3 linked regions of the Homo sapiens genome follow. The protein of the gene in region 3 purifies or fractionates together with the protein of the main gene of each other region. This does not show direct contact. Each region holds a gene or a part of one and is shown on either strand. Other genes may lie near its edges. The genes, in order: GLUD1, CAD and STK33.

Region 1 (3,653 bases), on a different chromosome or scaffold from region 3:
CAAGTAGTTCCTGAGGCCGGGTGCGGTGCTCATGCCTGTAATCCTAGCACTTTGGGAGGCCGAGGTGAGTGGATCACAAGGTCAGGAGATCGAGACCATCCTGGCTAACACAGTGAAACCCTGTCTCTACTAAAAATACAAAAAATTAGCCGGGCGTGGTGGCGGGCGCCTGTAGTCCCAGCTTCTTGGGAGGCTGAGGCAGGAGAATGGCGTGAACCCGGGAGGCGGAGCTTGCAGTGAGCTGAGATCGTGCCACTACACTCCAGCCTGGGTGACACAGCAAGACTCTGTCTCAAAACAAAAACAAAAACAAAAAACAAGTAGTTCCTGAATAACAGATATATTCTTTTTGTTTTTTTTTAATTTTTATGTTTTGAGAAGGAGTTACACTCTTGCTGCCCAGGCTGGAGTACAATGGCATGATCTCGGCTCACTGCAACCTCCGCCTTCCAGGTTCAAGCAATTCTCCTGCCTCAGCCTCCTGAGTAGCTGGGATTACAGGTACCTGCCTGGCTAATTTTTTTTTATTTTTAGTAGAGACGGGGTTTTACCATGTTGGCCAGGCTGGTCTCGAACTCCTGACCTCAGGTGATCCACCCGCCTCAGCCTCCCAAAGTGCTGGGATTACAGGCATGAGCCACCATGCTTGGCCTAACAGATAAATTCTTATATAGAGAACAGGTATGAGGCAGAAGTTAATCTTTTTTAAAAAAGCAACTTTTCTAACAGCATGTGACTATAGAGTAGGAGATGAAAGGGTAATTTTGGTACACAGAGATATAAGGGGATGAGAAGGGTGGAGACATCAGGGTCCTGCAGAACTTAGGTGATATTTACACTCACACAAGAGAATGAACATTGACCTTTCAAAAGCTTTTCCAAAAGCAGAAGAGGAAGGAACACTCCTCAACTCATTCCATGAGGCTAGAATTGTCCTGATACAAAGACTAGACAAAGACATCATAAGAAAACTATAGACCAATGTCACTTACAATAGCATTAAAAGGAGTAAAATATTTAGTTGTAAGACTTCTATGTAAGACTTCTACAATGAGAACTACAAAACATCATTGAAAGAAATCAAGAGACCTAAATAAATGGAAAGACATCTCATATTCAGCATTGGAAGGCTTAATATGGTTAAGATGGCAATACTGGTCAGGTGCAGTGGCTCATGCCTATAATCCCAGAATTTTGGGAAGCTGAGGTGGGAAGACTGCTTGAGCTCAGGAGTTTGAGACCAGTCTGGGATACGTGATGAGACCGTGTCTCCACAAAAAATTAAAAAATTAGCTAGGCACAGTTGCACACCCCTGTGGTTCTAGCTACTTGGGAGGGTGAGGTGAGAGGATTGCTTGAGCCCAGGAGGTCAAGGTTGCAGTGACTGCTGTCTGGTACTCCAGCCTGGGTGAAAGGACAAAACCTTTTTGGGGAGGGTGGGGAAGATGGCAATACTCCACAAATTAGTGTACAGATTCAATGAAATTCCTATAAAAATCCCAGCCTCTTTTTTTCTTTTGTTTTGCAGAAATTTACAAGCTGATGCTAAACACACATGTGACAGGATCAGGGTTCAGGCTCAGGTCTGAGCCTCAATCTGACACTCTCTGTGGAATGGGCAGTCAGGAAATAACAGATAAATAACATCAAATTTGAAGGTTTGCCGAGGAGTGAGAGAAAAAACTCCCTTTGCCTACCTCCTAGGCTTCAAAGCTTTCTGGGCCAAGACGTCAATTTAACTGCATCCTGGGTCAATGAGGCTTTTGCACATTAAGCAAATAAATCAAATTACTAGAGTTTAAGCTGTGTTTTCTTTCAGTATTCCAATGAATCACTTTTTGACCTTTGGAATTATTAGGTACTTGTCAAGTCTGATAAAATTAAGCTGGAGATATTGCAGATATGGGTGACAAATATGACTGAATAAAGTCTGAAACCATTCAAGACTATAAAATGTGTTTGAGATTTAGGGGAAGAGGAAAGACCTTTTAAAAATTATGAAGGCTATTAACAGGCTGAAGATGACTTCAATTCACCATATCTCAGAATCAGTAGGCACTCCTATAAAAGTGTGAGCGAGATAGTTAACTCATATTAACTTACGTTAACAGACTCCATGTAAGGATGCACAAGTTCACAGTAGTGCTGGGTATGCGGCACATCAAAGGCCCAAATGCCTTTTATTATCAAAGACAGGCCAAATCTAGTCAAGTTTTAGAGTTACCTATACTTACTGTATTTCTATATTAGGTTATTTCATGACATTTATTTCATGACTTTTTTTTCCTAAAAATGAATCCGAATAGCTTTATTTCATTTCTCTTTCTTCTTGAGATGTGGTCTCGTTTTGTTGCTCAGGCCAGAGTGTGGCAGGCCAGAGTGCAGTGGCACAATCATAGCTCACTGCAGCCTCAACCCCCCAGGCTTAAGGGATCCTCCCATCTTAGTAGTTGGGACCACAGGCATGCACCATCACGCTTGGATAATGTTTTCATTTTTTGTAGAGATGGGGTCTTGTAATATTGCCCAGGGTGGTCTCGAACTTCTGGGCTCAAGTGATCCTCCCACCTCAGCCTCCAAAAATGCTGGGATTACAAGCACCAGCCACCATGCCCAGCCTTTATAGTTTAATTTCATGGGAACTTGTGGGGGAAATGCTAAGAAAGGAAAGTAGAGAAAAATACACTTTATTTTCTATTTAAGTAGACCTTATTTTGTTTAACTATACTGATATTGATAGGACAAGTATTCTATTATTAAGTAACAATTAACATTCTTTTTTTTTTTTTTTTTTTTTTTTTTGAGACGGAGTCTCGCTCTGTTGCCCAGGCTGGGGTGTAGTGGCGTGATCTTGGCTCACTGGAAGCTCTGCTTCCCAGGTTCACACCATTCTCCTGTCTCAGCCTCCTGAGTAGCTGGGACTACAGGCACTCGCGACCACGCCTGGCAAATTTTTTGTGTTTTTAGTAGAGATGGGATTCCTACTAAACCCCGTTAGCCAGAATGGTCTCGATCTGACCTCGTGATCCACCTGCCTCGGCCTCTCAAAGTGCTGGGATTACAGGTGTGAGCCACCACGCTCGGCAGTAAGTATTAACATTCTATTAACTATACTGATAGGGCAAGCATTCTATTAAGTAGTTATGCATATTCTATTCAAACAAATTAGAAGCCTTCTAGATTAAAAAAAATATAGGTTTAAACTGCTTGAAAATTAAAGGGTACATGACAAATACTTACATATCATAAAAAGAATATTCAGATTGTGCACAAAGAAAATATAAACACAGATAATAGTAAGATACAAAAACATCAAGCAAACAAAGATTAATATCTTCAGAAATGTTGTATGTTTGGCAAAAGCTCCTATAACAAATAGTAGGAGGCCGGGCACAGTGGCTCCTATCTGTAATACCAGCAGTTTGGGAGTCCGAGATGGGTGGATCACCTGATGTCAGGAGTTCAAGCCCAGCCTGACCAACATGGCAAAGCCCCATCTCCAGTAAAAATACAAAAATCAGCTGGGTGTGGTGGCACATGCCTGTAATCTCAGCTACTTGGGAGGCTGAGACAAGAGAATTGCTTGAACCCAGGAGGCGGACGAGATCGCACCACTGCACTCTAGTCTGGGCAACAGAGTGAGACTCCGTCTC
Region 2 (3,653 bases), on a different chromosome or scaffold from region 3:
GCTTGGTGCTCTGGGTGAAACTGGACACTATTGAAGAGATTGCATCATGAAAACCATCATGGTCCCTGGCATGACACTGGCAGCCTCGAGGTGGGTAGTGGGACAGGGGACTCGGATCCACTGCCGTGCTTTACTTTTCCATCATCAAGGCCCACAGGGCTTCAAATTTTCACAGACCCAGTCAACCAGGCTCACCTGAAGAAAGGCAAGCTGTTGTGCACAATGCCTTCATTGGAACCATCATTGGCGTTGGTGAAGAGAGGAGCCCAGTCTGCTGGCAGTGAGTCTGTCTCCACAGCAAACCCATGGTTCTGGGATGTCAGAAAGCAGCGCCCAGAGCCCACCAACAAGCAGGGCTGGTTATGGCCTCGGTTCCCATATCTGGAGGTAGAAGCATGCCGAGTCACAGGCCCTGCTCACCCTCTCTTCACTACTGAACCTACCCCAGCTCTCACCGATCTCCTGTTCTCAGTAGCCTCACTCCTGTTTCCTTTTTGTTTTTTTTTTTTTTTTGAGACGGAGTCTCCCTCTGTTTCCCGGGCTGGAGGGCAATGGCACGATCTCCGCTCACTGCAACCTCCACCTCCCAGGTTCAAGCGATTCTCCTGCCTCAGCCTCTGGAGTAGCTGGGATTACAGGCGCACGCCACCATGGCTGGCCAACTTTTGTATTTTTAGTAGAGACAGAGTTTCACCATGTTGGCCAGGCTGGTCTCGAACTCCTGACCTCCAGTGATCCGCCCACCTTGGCCTCCCAAAGTGCTGGGATTACAGGTGGGAGCCACCTCACCTGCAACCCCCCCGCTCCTATTTCAACACGAATAAACACCAACTCTCTTCTCATTCCTGAGACACCCCACCCCTCATGCCACAAGTATGGGCCCCTTCTGCTCCCCACAAGTCCCACCTCATCTTGTAAGTCTTGGCCCCAATGGCTAAGGCCAATAGCTGGTGTCCCAGGCAGATCCCAAAGACAGGTCGGGGATTAGGCTCAGATAAAACACGGCTCAGTGTGGATACGACACTGGGATAGGAGGCAGGGTCACCAGGCCCATTACTTAAGAAGAGACCCTCATACTCTGGAGTGGGCAGAAAAGATGACATCAAAATCAGTATTTCAATTACAGGAGACACACCTGCAGCCCCCCCAGCCCATGAGAGTGTTAAGTCCCAATGTCTATCTTCTTCACTGCAACTCCTACTGACTTTTAGCAATTGGACCAAGGGATAGATCTTCCACCCAAGCTGCTTGTCTGAGGCCCTGAACAGGCCCCAGCTACTCACCTTGGCTGTCTAGTGCATGGTCCCAGGGTACCACAGTGACCTCAGCCCCACGCTGGCAGAGGCATCGGATCTGATTATACTTGAGGCCACAGTCCAAAGCAAGGATCCGAGGGGCACCCCCTGTATTGAATACCCGTGGAGTCTGAGAAATAGACGAATAAAGGGCAACAGTTGGCAGCTGTGCTCAGTGGGTATAAGATATGCCTGCACCAACTCCTACCTTCAAAGCCTCCTTTGATTCTCTCCTGTGTTCACCCCCCAATTGTGGGCAGAATATAACTACTGTGCTAGAGCTTGCAACACTCTCCCACTCTACCTCTGTACCTTAATGGAGACCTCTGGTACCAGGGGGCGGGCATTGGGGTCCAAGAATGGCAGGGATGAAGGTTCTGTTCCATTCTGGACCAGCTTCCCCAGCAGAGACCCCTGTTCCCGCAACTTCTTGGTCAGCTCCCGAGTGTCTACTCCTGTCAAAATAGCACAGTCTTAGGGATCACATTCCTACAACTCAGTCATCTGTGAGGTTAGACTTCCAGAAGCACTTCCATTCCAGAGCCCCAGTCACACACAGCTGTTCTATGTGCATCAAAATCCTGGGCCATTGTGACAGAAGTATACTACCATGAAGTATTCCTGCCAAAAATATCACATCTGAATTGAACAACTCTAAATCTATCCATTTATAGAAAATAATATAAAGGGAAAAAAAGAATACGCTAAGTAACACTACAGGAGTGTAACCAAGTAAGTGCAGACTATGGGATACTAGATACAGGAAAAATGACCTGTTTTCAAATAGGTTACAAGGTCCACAGATTAAGAGACTTATCAACCAAATGCAATGTGTGAACCCTGTTTAGAGCAAGATTCAAATGAACAGAAAAAAAAAAAAAAAAAAAAAAAAAAATTGGGAAATTTTAAACATTGCCTGGACACTTGTATTAGGGAATTATTAATTTTTTTAGTGTATGACGTTATTATGATCATGTTTTTTAAAGATTCCTTTTGCATAGATATTGAACTATTTGTAGATGAAATGATATGATGTCTGAGATTTGCATCAAAATAATCCAGTGGTGGTGATGAAATAAGATTAGCCCTAAGCTGATGATTATGGAAGGTGGGAGTTCCTTCCTGTGTTGGAAATTTTCTTTCTGAGTGATAGTTCAATTCTTTCTCCCAGCCCAACTCCAATCTAAACCTTCCAACTATCACAATCTTAGAGTCAGGTCCCAGCAGATTACAGAAACCTTGATTCTTTCCATCCAGGCATGCTGTGCTCTGCCCAAATATGCCCCTGCTTGCCACCATACCTTGCAAGCCAGGGATGCCATGCTGCTGCAGCCACTCATGCAGGGTGCGGGTGGCACTCCAGTGGCTGGGAGTAGGACAGCACTCTCCCACTACCAGTGCTGCTACGTGGATGCCCGAGGATTCAAACCACTGTAGATGGAAAGAGATTGTGAGAAGCCTCAGGCCAAGTTATTTCTTTGCAGCATTTTCCCGATTGTGTGGCCACAGACCCTATATTCAGCCACATTGAATGGCCTTCAATATACCAAACTTTTGGTGCTTTTGCATAGGTATTTCCATTTACCAACAACGCTCTCTCCTATACGAAACACAACCCACAGGCCCAGGGTGCCCCGATGATCACTGAAAATGACATTTTCCTTTTTATTTATTTATTATTTATTTTTTTTGAGACAGAGTCTCACTCTGTCACCCAGGCTGCAATGCAGTGGCGACATCTAAGCTCACTGCAACCTCTGCCTCCCGGATTCAAGCAATTCTCTTGCTTTAGCCTCCCGAGTAGCTGGGACTACAGGCGCCCGCCACCACACCCGGCTAATTTTTTGTATTTTTAGTAGAGACGGGGTTTCACCATGTTAGCCAGGATGGTCTCAGATCTCCTGACCTTGTGATCTGCCCACCTCAGCCTCCCAAAGTGCTGGGATTACAGGAGTGAGCCATCGCACCTAGCCATTCCTTTTTTTTTTTTTTGAGACAGGGTCTTGCTGTTATCCAGGCTGGAGTGCAGAGTACAGTGGCACAAATACACGGTTCACTACAGCCTCAATCTCCTGGGCTCAAGTGATTCTCCCACCTCAGACTCCTGAGTAGTTGGGACCACAGGTGTGGATCATCACACCTGGCTAATTTTTTGAATTTTTTGTAGTGACAGCGTCTCACCATGTTGCCAGGCTGCTCTCAAACTTCCTGGGCTCAAGCGATCCCCCCACCTCAGCCTTCCAAAGTGCTGGGATTACAAGTCATGAGCTACCGCGCCCCGCCTCTTTCTTCCTTTATCTAAAACTGAAATCACAAATCCTTTCTCTGTGAAGCCCCTCCCACTCACCCAATACAGCT
Region 3 (3,653 bases):
ATTGGCAGCTGCATGGTGGCAAGTTGGAAAGATCTCAGTTGAGGAGGAAGAAAAATACACTCTGCAGTACATATAAAGGAGTACTTTGAGAAACTTCCAGAAGTAATTGGGAGTACATTATTATGGTTTTATGCTATACCATTTCAGACAGTCTTTAAAAGTAGATTCTGTAGTCATAGATTGATAAACCTGGGGATATATGCAATATACTGTTATCCTTTGAACTGGAATAAACTTGACTAGAATAGGAAATTAAATATATTTATTTCATTAAAGAAATACCTGGTTTTCTAATCAGAAAGCTGTGCTTTTATCAAATCCTTATCTATTGTGATTGGCAGGAAAATCTGCCAGGCTCATACGATTTTATAAAAGATATTGCTAGTAGTTTACCTAAAAGTTGTCCTCTCATTCTTTCTTACTAACAGAATCCTGATCTTCTTTGGGGCAGCAATGTGCTCATTAACATCCTACATTTCCGGGCTTCTCTTTTAGATTAGGGGTAGCCATGTGACTTATGGCCATTAAGCTTAACAGAATGCAGGCAAAGCTGCACTTAAAAGAAAATTTATATTCTTAAACCTTTATTAAAATCAGAGGAGAAAGGATAAAAATATACTAAGTGTGCAGTCAAATCTAAAAGATAGAAAAACATAATTAAAGAGTAAGCTTAAGAAACAGAAATGACAAAGAAATTTTGTTGAATTTTGCCTATACGGTCCCAAATAAACGTACTCTTCACTACCTCTCAGCTTTCATATCTCCTTTCTCTCAGATACAGTAGCCTCTTGCTGCTCCTCTAATATGCCAAGTATACTCCCTTCTCAAGGCTTTGCCCTTCTGCTTCCTCTGCCTGGGATGCTCTTCCCTCAAACATTCACACGGTCTGCTCCCATGCTTCACTGTGGCTTCTGCTCATTTGAAAGGCTTTCCTAACCACCTCATCTAAAACAACAAGCCCATGCCCTCTCCCCCCTTACCTTGCTTTGTTTTTCTTCATGCCACTTATCATTTCACTCAGGAAGTTTCATAGCAGAGTCCTCTCCTACTTTTATTGAACAGATGATTCTTATATAAATGGTTTCAGAGCATGCAAAGCCATCCGGTTCATTTTATTCACTTAAAATAACCAAAATCTGACCATAGTAGTATTCCCCAAAAGGGGGATTTACAGGTCAGTCTCATTTGTAAATAGATTTTAAAATCCTAAATGCTGTACTTACATTTACCCCAGGTAATGTATATAGTATATTATAAGATTATTAAATAGAATAGATAAGTCTGCCCAATAAATATGACCTTTCATCAAAGTGGTGGGAAAAAAATTTCTATTGTGATTAAAACTCATAATGGAGAGTATGAGGACAGGTACATTAAAAGTGCCCTCCAGACAGGCAGAGGAAGAAAAGAATGCAACTGATGCCACTCAAAATACACACACACACACACACACACACACACACACACACATACACATCTCTTATAAACACTTAACCTGGTTTTTCAAGAATATGTAGCAAGACAAAGAAAATTCAGAATGTACCTGTATCACTTTCCAAAATGATTTAACTTCAGGCCTAGAAGAAAATGTTTTGCATTTCAGGTTAAATATAAAACCCATAACCATCAATGACTCAGAGCAGTGGAGTAGATCTGCAAATGATAGGCTTTCTGTTTGGGAAAAATAGTGCTTTCTCTCTGAGGTGTAGAGAAGTCCCATGTCAGATGTGTAAAACATCATTTTTTGCATACATTAAGAATATTGATTTTATGGTACTTTTTATAAGAAATTGTAAGAAGTATTCGTAACGTACAGGTTTATTTAACTGCAGCTGAGTTCTTTCATGATAAACAGTACTCCTAAAAGCATACTTACCATATCCTTCAAGGTTTACAAATATATATATTCACAAATTTTCAATGGAATCTTTAAATATTAAAATTTTCATTTTAAGATAGATTTTGGGGGATCTAAAAACAGCTATTCTTTTCTTAGCTTTGTTCAGAAAGCATTTCCTTTAATTTTCATCAATTTTTCAATAAGTCATTATCATATCACTGACATTGTCACAGACTTCTGAGTACTTTCTCGCTCCAGTCTTCTAATTTATCAGTTGCCTTAGAAGTACTTGGTAGCTATATGCATAAAGCATAGGATTTCTTTCTATTACTCACTGAGAAGTTTCATTTTTGCTCTCCAGTCTACCAAGTGCTATATTTGCCAAAATAATGTTCTACTTTCTTACCACAGCAATTCTAAAACAACAGGTTGAATAGCTGCATGCAAAATTTCTTGACAAGAATTAGATTTCAAATTTAACTTCTTTTTGGCTGGCTGAATTCTAATTATTTTAGTTTAAACAAAAACCAAGATAGAACAAATGTTTACTCACATTTATTTCTTTCTCATTTACGAATTGATCTGAAAGATTTGTTACTAAAACAAATCTACTATTTCACAGGACAAATGATGTCACTCATATTTTAGAGGCTTAAAATTAATCAAGTATTGCAAACTTATGTAAACACAAAGATTAATAGCTCTTTTTCTATAGAATCATGGAATTATGTTTAAACAGGACTTTAGATATAAAAATATGTATTACAAAAACCAAAGAATCTTCTAATACAATAATGTTTCTTTGTGTCTCCAAAGATTGGACATACATAGGTACTGGACATAATATAAGCAAATAAAATAAGTTCAAATTATGTCAGTACTTAACTAATACATGAGCCTTCCTTTGGCTTAAGGTTTTCATTTTATTTTTAGAACTAAGGCAAGTCAATAAAACAATTCTGATAATGAAAATCCCTGGGCTTTAATTTAATCATAAAAAGGTCTTTTACATATTGGCCCTAGAAGATACACTTACAGCAATTTCCTCAAGAAAATGAACACAAGAATGGTTTTATAAGATATAACTAGCTATAATTTTCTTCTCCAAAAGCAATTTTTTTAGTTTTCTTTGCTAAGACTGTGTCTACAAGAAACCTAAATAGTCAATTCAGTCAAAATGTGTTTTATTCAAGTAAAGGGGAAAAAAAAAAAAACTTACGAATTGTCTGACATTCTGCAGACCAAGCCAAATGACTGACTGCTTTAGTAACATGTTTACAAAGCCTAAAGAAGGGCCCAGTGAGTTTTCTAGATGATATTGCTATATTTTAAGGAAGACTAGCACTTGTTTATTCTTTTCATTAAGGGCATGATTAGGAAAATGAGTCTGTATTGTCTTATAAAAGGATTTACAGTATATTTAAAATTCACATTATTTCAGAATTTTTTTAAATGTTTGAGTGATGTTTACTATTAACTTTTCCTTTCTATTTTAATTTGCATGATGTTCCTCACTGATTAAGCAGTAATACGGAAGGACAGTCTTAAATGTGGCCCCTATACTGACAGTTAAAAGCGAGAACAGAGGCCGGGTGCGGTGGCTCACGCCTGTAATCCCAGCACTTTGGCAGGCTGAGGCGGGTGGATCACAAGGTCAGATCGAGACCATCCTGGCCAACATCCTGACCAACCTGGGGTTTTAGTAGAGAAACCCCATCTCTACTAAAAATACAAAAATTAGCTGGGTGTGGTGGCATGCACCTGTAATCCCGGCTACTAGGGAGGCTGAGGCAGGAGAATCGCTTGAACCCAG

The links.
Region 1: the proteins of STK33 (region 3) and GLUD1 purify together in Homo sapiens (affinity purification with mass spectrometry; one large-scale study listed by BioGRID and IntAct). This does not show direct contact.
Region 2: the proteins of STK33 (region 3) and CAD purify together in Homo sapiens (affinity purification with mass spectrometry; one large-scale study listed by BioGRID and IntAct). This does not show direct contact.

The regions. Positions count from the first base shown.
Region 1 is NC_000010.11:87,070,835-87,074,487, forward strand, and holds part of GLUD1 (glutamate dehydrogenase 1, mitochondrial isoform a precursor), read right to left. Parts: intron 1-3,653. UniProt on the Homo sapiens protein: Mitochondrial glutamate dehydrogenase that catalyzes the conversion of L-glutamate into alpha-ketoglutarate. Plays a key role in glutamine anaplerosis by producing alpha-ketoglutarate, an important intermediate in the tricarboxylic acid cycle.
Region 2 is NC_000002.12:27,220,291-27,223,943, reverse strand, and holds part of CAD (multifunctional protein CAD), read right to left. Parts: intron 2,727-3,653; coding exon 2,597-2,726; intron 1,751-2,596; coding exon 1,608-1,750; intron 1,426-1,607; coding exon 1,284-1,425; intron 1,079-1,283; coding exon 907-1,078; intron 382-906; coding exon 196-381; intron 28-195; coding exon 1-27. UniProt on the Homo sapiens protein: Multifunctional protein that encodes the first 3 enzymatic activities of the de novo pyrimidine pathway: carbamoylphosphate synthetase (CPSase; EC 6.3.5.5), aspartate transcarbamylase (ATCase; EC 2.1.3.2) and dihydroorotase (DHOase; EC 3.5.2.3).
Region 3 is NC_000011.10:8,475,707-8,479,359, forward strand, and holds part of STK33 (serine/threonine-protein kinase 33), read right to left. Parts: exon of another isoform or gene 1,578-3,653; 5' UTR 1,544-1,577; exon of another isoform or gene 1,046-1,543; 5' UTR 981-1,045; intron 967-980; exon of another isoform or gene 394-966; intron 1-393. UniProt on the Homo sapiens protein: Serine/threonine protein kinase required for spermatid differentiation and male fertility. Promotes sperm flagella assembly during spermatogenesis by mediating phosphorylation of fibrous sheath proteins AKAP3 and AKAP4.